Linked DNA regions of Homo sapiens. The protein of the gene in region 2 purifies or fractionates together with the protein of the main gene of each other region. This does not show direct contact. Each region holds a gene or a part of one and is shown on either strand. Other genes may lie near its edges.

Region 1 (3,652 bases), on a different chromosome or scaffold from region 2:
TACAAATGGACTTGGCAGCTTTGGCTGATGTTTCTGTTGTGCACACAAAATGGTCCTTTAAGGAAAACCTGAAAATTTATTCTAGAATTTTAAGATAATCCATCAGAAAAAACAAACAAAATTCTTCCTGAAATTTCTAAACAATACTTTGGTTTTGAATATTTAGGCTTTCCTTTCATAAATTTGATTGGTTGATTTATATCTTTTAAAAAATATGTCTTTAGGGCAGCTTTGTAATATAAAAAATATTTCCACCTATAATTCTTTACTTTAATGTAACTGTTTTCTTTTCTTTTCTTTTTTTTTTTTTTTTTTTTTGAGACAGTCTCATTCTGTCACCCAGGTTGGAGTGCATGGTGTGATCTCAGTTCACTGCAGCCTCCGTCTCCTCGGTTCAAGCAATTCTCCTGCCTCAGCTTCCTGAGTAGCTGGAATTATAGGTGTGCACCAGCATGTCTGGCTAATTTTTGTATTTTCAGTAGAGACGGGGTCTCCCCATATTGGCCAGGCTGGTCTTGAACTCCTGACCTCAAACGATCTGCCCACCCCAGCCTCCCAAAGTGCTGGGATTACAAGTGTGAGCCACCACACCCAGCCTAATGTAACTGTTTTCCTTTCCTTTTAGTCTTTATCTCATTGTTATATGTGATTATAATGTTGTCATTTATGCAGTTGTATGTTCTATTTTAAACCTTAAAATTTGTTACTTACCAACTTTTTGAATATGCCTGACTGAAATGATTCATACTGTAGCATGTGTGACTCAGGGTAGTGAAAGGGGGTTTGTTTTGAATAGCAAGATGAGCATCAGACTAGTCTTCCAACCAGAAAACATTCCATGCAACTTGAGACACAGATGAAACAGCAAATTTCTTCTTGGCTTGGGGTTGGATAAAGGGTGGATTGACTTATGTAGTGTTTGCTAAAATGACAAATGGTGAGATGCTAAAAGCACTTTGAGCTTTAGGGAGTTCAAAGTGGCCAGGCAAATTAAAGTTATGTGACCTATCTGAGAATATAGCATAGTTCTTTGTGAGAAAAGAAAGTGAGATATTTGTGCTTTGTTGGAAATAAAAAAGATTTTAAAAACTCAAGGCTGGGCACAGTGGTTCACACCTGTAATCTCAGCACTTTGGGAGGCTGAGGCGCAGATCGCTTGAGCTCAGGAGTTCAAGACCAACCTGGGCAACATGGCAAAACCCCATCTCTACCAAAAAAAAAAAACCCAAAAAAGAATGAAAATTAGCTGGGCGTAGTGGCTCACACCTGTAGTATCAGCTACTTGGGTGGCTGAGGTGGGAGGACCACTTGAGCCTGGGAGGTTGAGACTACAGTGAACCTTAATTGCACCACTGCACTCCAGGCTGGGCAACAGCACAAGACCTTGTCTCAGAAAAAAAAAAAAAACCACAAACAAACAGAAAAACTTTTATCAAAAATACCTACTGCTCATGCTGGGTGTGGTGGCTCACACCTGTAATCCCAGCACTTTGGGAGTCTGAGGCAGGTGGATCACTTGAGGTCAGCAGTTCAAGACCAGCCCGGCCAACATGGTGAAACCCCATCTCTACTAAAAATACAAAAATTAGCCGGGCGTGGTGGTGCGTGCCTGTAATCCCAGCTACTCGGGAGGCTGAGGCAGGAGAATTCACTTGAACCCAGGAGGCAGAGGTTGCAGTGAGCCGAGCTCGTGCCATTGCACTCCAGCATGGGTGACAGAGTGAGACTGCATCTCAATCAATCAATCAATAAACCTGCTGCTCAGATAGGGTAAGAAATAAAAACAGCATAATCATCTGAAAGAAACGAAATTGTGTATCTTTTAGACTTCAGACAAAGTAAATATTCAACATCTGATAACTGTTAAGGACACAAACTTGAGCATATTTGTGTTGAGTTCTTTTATAACTCTAAAATATGCTAGAATTCTATGGAGGATTGATTCTGAGTTTACAGACCCTTGAAGACATCAGGAGTCTGTGTACCTACAGTGGTAATATATTAATATGTGTGAGTCCCTAGTTAACCGTTTACACCTGGAATGCCAGGCAAAGTAGACAATGTCAGAGACACAGAGGAACAACCTGTGCAATGGATGGAAATGCAGTAGATGGACATATGCTCTTGTGTGTTTGGAACCTTCACAGGAAAGAAGCAGAACACAAAGTGGAAAGTGCAGACGAGGCAAAGGACCTGTGGAAGGTTTGTTTCTAAACCTCAAACCTCAAAGATCTTTTTTTTTTTTTTTTTTTTTAATTGAGACAGAGTCTTGCTTTGTCGCCCAAGCTGGAGTGCAGTGGGGCGATCTCAGCTCACTGCAACCTCCGCCTCCTGGGTTCAAGCCGTTCTCCTGCCTCAGTCTCTGGAGTAGCTGGGGCTACAGGCGCCCACCACCACACCCGGATAATTTTTGTATTTTTAGTACAGATGGGGTTTTGCCATCTTGGCCAGGCTGATCTCAAACTCCTGACCTCAAGCGATCCTCCTGCCTTGGACTCCCAAGGGCTGGGATTACAGGTGTGAGCCACTGCGCCGAGCTTAAAGATCATTCTCGAAACTCACTTTAGCAAACTTGGGTATTTCAGTTAGGATTAGGTTCAATTGTAACAGATCATCAAACAAACAAACACAAAAAAACCAGGAACTTAAAGATAGAGTTTTTGGGTTTTTTTTTTTTTCCTTACATGAAAGAAGTCTGAAGCTAGGTAACTGAGAGCTGGCATGGCAGTTCTGTGATCACCAGAGACCTAAGCTCCCTCTTTCTTTTGGTGTCATCATCTTTAGTGCTGGCTTCCACCATCAGGTTTGCCTTAGGGCTGCTGAGTGATCGCTGCTGTTCTAGCTGTCACATCTGTGCTCCAAGCAGGAAGAAGGACAAGGCCAAAGGACATATTTCCTGGTAGAATCCACCCCCTGTACCCTAAAGGGCTTTCCTGGAAACCCCACCCACTTATCGGATACCCCTATCTGTAAAGGACATTGCCTTCACTTATAACATGGAGACTAGATATTGGATAGGCAAACCTTGGTCTTTGCCATACCAAGTGATCGATCATATTCCTAAAGGTATTTCTTAGACTTAGGTTGCTAAGACTTCGGGATATCTACAGACTCAGAACAGGACAGTAATAATGTTTGGTGAACCTGGCTTTTCGTTTCCTGCTTAATTGATTAATTCAACAGTATTTAGGACTTACCACATGCTAGGCACTGGAGCTACGATAGTAAGCAAAATAGACCCAGTCCCTGCCCTCAAAGAGTTTACAGACCCATGGGGGAAAGAAAGGTTTTAAAGAAGTGGATTATAAATATGTTGAACCTTAAGAAGAGGGAAGTAAAGTGTGCTTGGTTGGGGCTGTGTGATAGGAAAGGCTCTATAAGGATATGTCATAACATATACATTGAAACTTAAAGGATGCTTAGGAGTTAGCCAGGTCAGAATGGCAGGGATGGAGGTGTCAGAGGAGAGCAAGAGGGGGAGGAGTGCCCCAGGTCGACTCACTCCCAGTCTGATAATTTCCATTACAATTCCTTTTTCTTCCATTATTTGTCTTAATTCTTCATCAGAGGGAATCAGTGGGAATGTCTAAGCAATAAAGGAAGGCAGAGACCAAAATTTTTTTTTAATCTGATGGCTAAAGGGGTTGCCATC
Region 2 (3,752 bases):
AGTCGTAGGTATCCTTGATGAGAATATATTTTGTGGAGTCATAGGGGCAAAAACATCAACCAAGGGATTCGGGAGAGAATAAGAGGAGAGATATTTGCAAGTTAGACAATTCTTACTAAAGCTTGGTTCAGAAATGAAGGAGAGAAATGGGACTCTAGCCCAAGGGGGTGGTGGCATCCAGAGAGATTTTTTATGGGATAAAAAATAGTAAGTTTGAACGCTGACAGGAAGGATCAAAGAGAGAGAAGAAATTGATGATGCAATAGGGATGGGAGAGTGTTAACAGCCAGTTCACCCATTGTACCAAGAATAAGGTCAGGGATACAGCTTGCATGCAGGTAGGTGAGCAGATAGAGTGAGGGAAGCTTGTGGACATTCTCTTTCAGTTACATTGATTTTCTCAATGAAACGGGAACCCAGGTCGTCAGTAAGAGTAAGCAAGTGGCAGGTGAAGAAGAAAGTATGACAGAGTCATCTAGGAGAGTTGGAGAATGAATGGAGCAAGGCGTGCAGCTTAGATGCTGGCTAGCAGTGACTGTTCTGAGCACTTTGTACTGGCTTTTCTACTAAAGCCTCACAACAGCCTATGAAGTAAGCCCTATTATTTGCCCCATCTACAGATAAGAATTGAAGCACAAAGTGGTCAAGAAACTTGTCCATAGTCCCACAGCAGGAAAGCCAGGATTTGACTACCAGTGATCTGTTTCCAGGGCCCAAATGCTTAAGCACTAGGTTAGGCTGACCCAGTTAAACATGAAAGCTTGTCACAGAACTGAACTAAATAGAATAGAATAAAGGTTGAATTAATGTGTGTGGTGCAACCACTCTGTGTCAAGCTCTGCACTAGATTCCTCTGCAAAAACCCTTTGAGTTGTGGTTATTATCAACCCCATTTTACTGATGAGGACATTAAGGTCTGGAAAGATTCAGTTGCTTGTTCAAAAGTTGAAGAGCTAGCAAATGGAAGCCCACACCATGTATACAGCCCACACACCCTGATTCTAAAGCCCACACCCTGTGTACAATGCCAAAGAACCCTTAGGATATGTGAGTGGGTCGACCTAGCTTAAGTTGCTTCATTAAGCCAAATACATCAAAACCCTCCCTACATCAGGCTGAGATCACTTGCAAACTTTATCCTGAGCACCTGGAGAGCTTGCGACATGGTCCTTACAGCAGGAAGAATTTAAAAGAAGATAACTTTGGGGGAATGCTTGTTGTTTTTCTGACCATTTTTGGATGCTTGATCCGTTAGGTGAGGAAGAGGAGAGCTTAGAGTTGAAGTAGATGATGGGAGTTTCGACATTTTCTTCTAATTAAAACTGTAATCTTTTATAACAGAAGCAACCATTCTGGTTTTTCAAGCATTTCCAAAAACCATTTTCTCAAGAAAGAGTGCTCATAATGTATCATCTTCACTGAACAGCCACCCACTTCCTCAAATGCAAGGAAGCAGACAGTTAAAAAAGAAACACACACACACACACACAAAACCAAGAGGCAGCAGTTGTTTATCACGACCTCAACTCAGTAAGGCCTGAGATTCTTTCGAAAAGGAGCTTTGCTTCCCATGACGCAGAGGGAAGTGTCAACTGGGATATTTCTGGTAAAACTGAAAGCAAGAAAAGCAGGGTGCTAGCCCCTGTGGGACTGAGGGTGGAGGCTGGGGGAGTTTGGGTGCCATCCTCCAGTGACAGATGGATGGACCTTTCATCTAAGAGAAAGGAGGAGACACGTTGGCAAATCAGCCTCAAGCCTAAGATTGCTTGTGAAGCAATCATAAGGAGGAACAAAAACAGACACAAAAACAGAGGGAAAGAGTGAAAAGACAAGAAGGGCGCAAACTGTGACAGACTCACCGCTTCACTAACTACTCACTTAAACTGGAAGCAAAATGTCCCTAAAATTGCCAAGGAACTGGGATTTCAACCTGAAAGTGGAGGCTGCGAAAATAGGTATGGTTGGTGTCTTTTCGTTGCCTCTGTGATTCTTACGTATACTCGAGCACCATTTGCATGTTGGTCTGCAGGGAGCATAGTCTACTTAAAAATGGATCTCGCAGCAAATCTGAGTTTGAGGGACCATTTGCATTTAAGTTGGCATGCCAGGTCCAAGTTCTAAAATGCTGGGAGGGGGTTCTCTTTCATTTGGACAAAACAGTGGGATGGCACTCCTTGGTGTGCAGGATCTGGGGTACTTCGGATGATTTAAGGCTACAGACTACACACAAAACTGTGAGTTTTTAGCATATTCCATTTCCTTCCTGTTTGGAAACTCATCCATATTTTGAATGGTTCTGAACAGGAGCACAAAGACTAGAGTCTTTTGAAGTGCTCAATCTGTAAGTAAATTCAATGGGTGTTCTGTTTTGTGAGCCCAGGAGTCAAGGTGTATTAAAAGGTAGTAGCAAAAGGTAGACAACAAAAACAAGACAGGAACATAAAAACGTACTAAAGTATAATAAAGACCTTACTTAATAAAAATATAATTAAAGGAACAGAATGGGAGGGAATTCTTAGATGAGTTGGAAAAGAGATGTATTTTTTATTATTTTAAGGGAGACTGGCATATTTTCTGAGATAGTCTGGCCTTTAATCCATACCCTGTCCTTCTAATGATGATAGTGATACATTAAGTTTAATCTATATATTCGTTATGAAGTTCTTTACATAGATTTCTTCTATTGCTAAATTGGTCACAGTAATTCACATCAGAGCAATCGGGCTGAAAACTATTGCCTACATTTATGTATCTCACCCATACATGAGATAACTTCCTTGATATTAGATATAGATAAGTATTAAGGTGTTTCTAACAGCTTGGAGGAATTTTGCTTGGAAAAAGGTTTAGATTTGAACCTCTAATGGGGTTAAGTGTGCTACTAAAATAAGTGCTCCATTGAAAAGTCACAAGCGGAGCATTAATGATGTAGGTCTGAGAAAGGGTTTGAAAGAAAACAGAGTAATCAGAGAAGCCATTTATCTTGATAACTAGGGGAGATTAGCGTTCCCTAATCAAGCTGTGAATGATTGTATGCTGAGGTCAGTTCAGAGAAAAGGTAATGTTCATACCTCTTACAAAAGCAAGAGATTTTCCTCCTAACTATCATTGATACAAATGTACTTGGCTAATGCTCAATCTATGTCATACAAATTATATGGTTCTGTTCCTTTGAAAGTGTCCTGCTTCTACATAAATAAGGTCATTCTGCCTTCTCTCCACCTATGTTTGAACACAGGTTATTAGGGTCTTACTCTCCTTTGGTTTAAAAAACAAGAAAGTTGAGACAATTAATAGTTAAATGATTTTTTTCACAGATATAGGAAATTACCACACTAGAGCTCAAGACTGCATATACTCAGGTCTGGGATTTGATTGAGTGAATTTCATGATTTTTACCAATGTTTCTTAAAGCATGGTCCCATAGATAACCTATATCAGACTCACATCAAGTGCTGGCTAAAAATGCAGATTTCTGGGCACCATCCTTACAAAATCAGAATCTCTGGAGGAAGGCCCAGGATCCTGCATTTTGACAAGCACCCCCCACTTTCATCCTCACCTGAGGAAGAATTCCTGCTGTAGGTACTGTGGTCTATGTTCACTAGCCCCAGCAGACAGTTTTCACCCATTTAGTATAGGGCACAGTGCTTGTTCTTAACTGGGCACACAATAAATATTTGTTGGCTGAATGAATGCTTCAGCCAACAAAAACAAGCAGATGATGTTATTTAGTATTACTTAATGAAAAA

The links.
Region 1: the proteins of ARHGAP25 (region 2) and DSTYK purify together in Homo sapiens (affinity purification with mass spectrometry; 3 studies listed by BioGRID and IntAct, with this or other methods). This does not show direct contact.

The regions. Positions count from the first base shown.
Region 1 is NC_000001.11:205,170,057-205,173,708, reverse strand, and holds part of DSTYK (dual serine/threonine and tyrosine protein kinase), read left to right. Parts: intron 1-2,147; coding exon of another isoform or gene 2,148-2,202; intron 2,203-3,652. UniProt on the Homo sapiens protein: Acts as a positive regulator of ERK phosphorylation downstream of fibroblast growth factor-receptor activation. Involved in the regulation of both caspase-dependent apoptosis and caspase-independent cell death.
Region 2 is NC_000002.12:68,733,306-68,737,057, forward strand, and holds the start of ARHGAP25 (rho GTPase-activating protein 25), read left to right. Parts: upstream 1-1,505; 5' UTR 1,506-1,894; coding exon 1,895-1,955; intron 1,956-2,071; exon of another isoform or gene 2,072-2,234; intron 2,235-3,752. UniProt on the Homo sapiens protein: GTPase activator for the Rho-type GTPases by converting them to an inactive GDP-bound state.